Linked DNA regions of Homo sapiens: region 2 is linked to region 1. Evidence: fine-mapped expression QTL. A gene starts in region 1. The other region holds a variant in brackets. All regions are shown on one strand. Distances are from middle to middle. Region 1 holds the start of NUSAP1 (nucleolar and spindle associated protein 1). Region 2 has its middle 3.4 kb from the start of NDUFAF1.

Region 1 (2,910 bases):
AGGCCTCTACAAAAAATTTAAAAATTAGCCGGGAGTGGTGCTGTGTGCCTGTAGTCCCAGCTACTCCGGAGGGTGAGGTTGGGAGGATAGCTTGAGCCAGGAAGGTAGGGGCTGTAGTGAGCTATGAGCGCACCAGTGCACTCCAGCCTGGGCGAGAGCAAGACCCTGTATCAAAAAGTTCTAATATCTAAAAGGATTGTAGTTTATAGTATGTTATTCTCACTGTAAACCAAAAGGTTATTTTTTTCTTTTGTCCACTACTAGATACATCTTTCTTAGCCTCACTTCACTTGTACAAGCCACCTGGGAGAAGTGGCCCTCAGGAAGATCCTAAAACCAATACACAAATACAACTTTTTCATTTCATTAATACATCAAGTTCATATAAGAGTCAAACAGGTAAAAGCAGCATCCCAAACTGTTTTCTCCTCGTACATGTCAGTTCCACGATCCTCAGTCTCATAAAGTCAGGGACTAGAGACCAATGTAATTATCAATACGTACCTGCCTTTGAGTGAACCTTCAATGCCAACTAGGAAGGGCGCTTCCAAAACGACGTTATTTGTAACTCCTAGGAAGACAAACACGGGTCAGAACCCATACTCTGCGGGCCTTGAAATGGAAAATCTCTCCTCTAGACAGACTCATCCTGGCCGTAAATATCAGGAGACTCCCCGATTCCCTGCCCCATCCCCAGGCCAAGGAGTTATTTGCTTCCAACTTTTCATCCCGTTTTCTTCCCCAGGTGGTTCTCCGCCACCCGGTGGAGAAAGCGGGAACACCCTCTCGGGCTAGCCTCTGCCTTTCCCGAACGCTTCACTGCACTCACTGGAGAAGACCACGGCCCCGAGGGACCGCGACAGGTCCCAGGCGAGGTGCACCGAGTCGGCGAGCACTGCGTGACACTGTGCGCACTGGAACACAGCGCACCTCTCAGGCTGCAGCCAAGACGGCAGCTGCGGGCCGGCGGCTGGCTCCTCAGCCCCCAGCCCTGCGGGGCCGAGCGGCGAGGACCCCTTCACCACCTGCGTATCCCACTCCATGGAGGTCGTAAAAGAAGCTTGGTCAATCGCCCTCTCAGTGCCACCACAAAAGTCCCCCCGGGGCGGCGTTGCACAACGTGAGCGATGCCGCAGCGGCTGAGCCGCCATCTTCCCGCAGCCGGCGCCTTCCTTTCGAATACACGCCAGGCCCCGCCCCAAGCACAGCTCCTGCGTCCTCATTGGACATCATGGGCAATCCAAGCACTGGAGTCCGAGTCCGCGCACTCGTTACCTGAACAGGCGTTACAGGCCCTTTGGCGCCTGCGTATTCGTGAAGTGTGAAAAAAGCGCGCCTCTGTTGGGACGGGAAATCAGCCTTTCTATTGGTCAGGGTTAGAAACCCCGCCTTTGAGGCATTTTCAACCAATGGAAGCGCGGCATTCTTCATTTAAACTGTCTATAAATTTCTGCCTAGTCAAAGTTAAGAGTGGCGCCAGGGATTTGAACCGCGCTGACGAAGTTTGGTGATCCATCTTCCGAGTATCGCCGGGATTTCGAATCGCGATGATCATCCCCTCTCTAGAGGAGCTGGACTCCCTCAAGTACAGTGACCTGCAGAACTTAGCCAAGAGTCTGGGTCTCCGGGCCAACCTGAGGGTACGGCGCTGGCGGTGCGGGTCCCTGGGCGGGCGCGGCGGGAATAGCGGCCTCGGGGAGATGCGGTGCGAAGGGACCGAGAGGGAAGCCCGGGACTGAGGCAGCTCTCCCTGCCCCTCGGGCAGTAGATGTGGTTCACGGTAGTCCCAGTTAGAACTCTGATAAACGGAAGAGGAACTGTAGTTTTCACCTCATTTTGAAGCTGGCTTGTCTGGGTGCTCACATGATAAGCTCTATTCCGAGGGATGGTTTATTGTTTTTTGTTTTGTTTTGTTTTGAAATTACTGTATACCTCTCAGGGCGTCGATTACGAAACTCAGGCCCAGAAAGCACAAGGGGTGTCGTTAATCGTTAGACAATTAAGTAAATAATTGGCTCAGCTTCTGGAAAACCCCAAACAGACTCCAGTGATTTGTAATATTGCCGATAATCTCTTGATACTTTATTGATGGACCTGTCAGAAAAAAAAAATCGACTTTTAGGGGAGCACCTCCTTGGGTAAATTTTTATTGATGACTGTTGGGTTGATGGTCTCTATCAAAACCAGTAAGGTCTTTGACTCCGAGGCTACAAGATGTTTGGAGAGTTGGCCCGGCGCTGTGGCTCACGCCTGTAATCCCAGCACTTTGGGAGGTCGAGGCAGGCGGATCACCTGAGGTCAGGAGTTCGAGACCAGCCTGGCCCTTAAAAAATTAGCCGGGCGTGGTGGCACACGCCTGTGATCCAAGCTTTTTGCCTGTGATCCCAGCTACTTGGGAGGCTGAGGCAGAAGAATCGCTTGAACCTGGGAAGCCGAGGTGGCAGTGAGCCAAGATCGCACCACTGCACTCCAACTTCGGTGACAGAGAGAGACTCAGTCTCAAACAAAACAAAAACAAACAAAAAACCCAAGATGTTAGAAGAAGATTTGGGGATTTAATGTAGGATAGCGGTTTTATATATTTTGTTAATAGTTGAGACTTCCCACATAATACTGCTATATACTCTGGAGGTTTCTCCTGCAGGCTGTGATACTGACAGTGAGTAAATGCTTAAATCAATCGTCACAATTTTTTTTTTATTTGTTTGTTTGTTTGTTTTTTCTTTGAGACGGAGTCTTGCTCTGTCGCCCAGGCTGGAGTGCAGTGGCGCCATCTCGGCTCACCGCAACCTCCGCCTCCTGGGTTCAAGCGATTCTCCTGCCTCAGCCTCCTGAGTAGCTGGGATTACAGGCGCGTGTCACCACGCCTGGCTAATTTTTGTATTTTTAGTAGAGATGGGGTTTCACCAT
Region 2 (2,910 bases), 73 kb after region 1:
AACTAAATGTCTAAAACTAAATGTGTCATTTTTCCTCCTACTAATTCCTCCTGTCTCCCTATTTCTGTAAATGGCCACATCCTTCTAGGATGGAAATGCTTGACTGTCCTTGGCTCCTCTCCTTAAAATCTTCTCTTACTGATTTTAAATCCTGTTGCATTCTCTTGCTGTTTTTGATCTTTGATCTTTTCACACCTTCTTTCCAAGCCCACTGACACGTTTCTTGTTTTTTTGGTTTTTAAAATATAGTAGCCATCCTAATGAGTGTGAAGTGGTATCTCATTTTGGTTTTGATTTGCATGTCTCTAATCATTAGTTGTTTGCTGCTTTTTTTTTTTTGAACCACAGTCTTCCTCACCCAGGCTGGAGTGCAGTGGCGTGATCTCGGCTCACTGCAACCCCCGCCTCCCGGGTTCAAGTGATTCTCCTGCCTCAGCCTCCTGAGTAGCTGGGATTAGAGGTGCATGCCACCACACCCAGCTGATTATTGTATTTTTAGCAGAGTCAGGGTTTCGTCATGTTGGCCAGGCTGGTCTCCAACTCCTGACCTCAGTTGATCCACCCACCTCGGCCATCCAAGGTGCTGGGATTACAGGCGTGAGCCACTGTGCCAGGCTGTTTGCTTAAGTATAGGAAGCCCCATATGTATTTATTACCAGTGGAGAAAGGAAGGCTGGAAGAAAGAAAAAAATATTCAAATAGAAAGGAAGGACATGACAATGCCAGGCAGAAGAAAAGGTAGAGTCACTAGGGGAAGGAAATATAGGAAATAAAGGAAGGAAATAAAGGCAAAGAGCTGAGGGGAAATGATTATGTAGGTTAACCCAACCATGTCTGTAGCACCTTCTTCCTTGGCCTCCCAGACAGTGGTAGTGGGCTCCACCAAATCTTAACTATACCTTTGTTCACAACAAAACTGAAACCCAGCCAGGCAGGGTAGCTCACACCTGTAATGCCAGCACTTTGGGAGGCCTAGTCGGGTGAATCACCTGAGATCAGGAGTTCGAGACCAGCCTGGCCAACATGGTAAAACCCTGTCTCTACTAAAAATACAAAAATTAGCCAGGGGTGGTGGCGAGCACCCGTAATCCCAGCTACTCGGGAGGCTGAGGCAGGAGAATGGCTTGAACCTGGGAGGCAGAGGTTGCAGTAAGCTGAGATCTTGCCATTGCACTCCAGCCTGGGCGACAAGAGTGAAACTCTGCCTCAAAAAAGAAAACAACAACAACAACAACAACTGAAACCCATCCAAATTAGACATGGAGACAACAGGGGACCATCTATCTATTTGTGGACATAAGGCTGACAAATGCCATAAATGATAATATGACAAAGGGAACAAAGTGAGGGAAACTAAGAGCAGGCAACTACAAAGAGAAGCCCCTGCCTAAAAGGAAATGAACAGTAAGAGCATCATTCAGAAGCCTGGGACCAGAGGACATTGAAGCTGTTCTGAATCCGAATATGAATGGGTGAAGCCCTGTAGTCCCCTATATTGCAGGCAGTGACAAAAGAGGCAGAAGTGTTGTTCAGCCCTGGCCAACCTTAGAAGGTAGCAGGATCATTTTTTGTTTGTGTGTTTGCTTGTTTTGAGATGGAGTTTTCCTCGTGTTGTCTAGGCTGGAGTGCAATGGCGCAATCTCAGTTCACTGCAACCTCCACCTCTCGGGTTCAAGCGAATCTCCTGTCTGAGCCTCCCGAGTAG[C/T]TGGGATTATAGGTGCATGCCACCATGCCTGCCTAATTTTTGTATTTTTAGTAGAGACGAGGTTTCATAATATTGGTCAGGCTAGTCTGCAACTCCTGACCTCAGGTGATCCACCCGCCTCAGCCTCCCAAAGTGCTGGGATCACAAGCGTGAGCCACCGCGCCCGGCCTGTTTTTGTTGTTTGGAGACGGAGTCTTGCTCTGTCACCCAGGCCAAGGTGCAGCAGCCCAATCTTGGCTCACTGCAACCTCTGCCTCCCAGGTTCAAGCGATTCTCCTGCCTCAGCCTCCTGAGTAGCTGGGACTACAGGGGTGCGCCACCACGCCCAGCTAAGTTTTGTTGTTTTAGTAGAGACAGGGTTTCGCCATGTTGGCCAGGCTGGTCTCCAACACCTGACTTCAAGTGATCCACCCACCTTGGCCTCCCAAAGTGCTGGTATTACAGGCATGAGTCACTGCGCCTGGCCAGGAGGGTATTTTTTTGTTTGTTTGTTTGAGACCGAATCTCACTCTGATGCCCAAGCTGGAGTGCAGTGGCGTGATCTCAGCTCACTGCAACCTCCACCTCCCGGGTTCAAGCGATTCTCCTGTCTTGCCCTCCTAAGTAGCTGAGACTACAGGTGCATGCCACCACACCCAGCTGATTTTTTTTTTTTGGTAGAGACAGGGTTTCACCATGTTAGCCAGGATGGTCTCGATCTCCTGTCCTCGTGATCCACCCGCCCCGGCCTCCCAAAGTGCTGGGATTACAGGCGTGAGCCACCGTGCCCAGCCAGGAGAGCTTTTTCTTTAATTTTTTTTTAAGCTGCTGAGTTTGTGTTAAGCAGGATCCTAATGTCATTTCCAATCAGTATTAAATCAAATAATATATGTAAAATATTTGCATAATTATTGGAATTATTTGGTAAATGTACAAAAAAGCTAGCTATTATTGCTGAACTATAGGACAGTGTTCAACAGGTACACAGTCCAATAGAGGGCATGTCATCAAACAAATAACTGCAGCACAGTTAGAAACTATAGCAGAGGGAGGTATTAGGTACAAGACTGGCCCAAAGAAGGGTGTAATGAGTGCTTCTAGGCTAGACATTGAGTTTAACACTTCTCAGGCATTTTCTCTTTTCATTGTCAGAACAATTCTGTGAAGTAGGTACTCATATTACACCTATTTCCCAGGTAAGAAAACAGATGTTAAGTAACATGCTA

Evidence for each region. PIP is the estimated chance that this variant, and not a neighbour inherited with it, causes the effect.
Region 2: its variant is the best candidate, but not a certain one, in a credible set for the expression of NUSAP1 in whole blood (TOPMed, PIP 0.50).

The regions. Positions count from the first base shown.
Region 1 is chr15:41,331,411-41,334,320 of GRCh38, forward strand. NUSAP1 (nucleolar and spindle associated protein 1) reads left to right here and starts at 1,471. Exons shown (of 11, transcript NM_016359.5): 1 at 1,471-1,640. The coding sequence starts at 1,548. OIP5 (Opa interacting protein 5) reads right to left here and starts at 1,181. Exons shown (of 5, transcript NM_007280.2): 1 at 830-1,181; 2 at 505-571. The coding sequence starts at 1,151. RefSeq lists an enhancer at 935-1,194.
Region 2 is chr15:41,404,393-41,407,302 of GRCh38, forward strand. No RefSeq gene overlaps it. Among named protein-coding and RNA genes, the nearest start is that of NDUFAF1, 3.4 kb to the left of the region's middle. The variant C/T (reference allele first, on the strand shown) is at 1,706.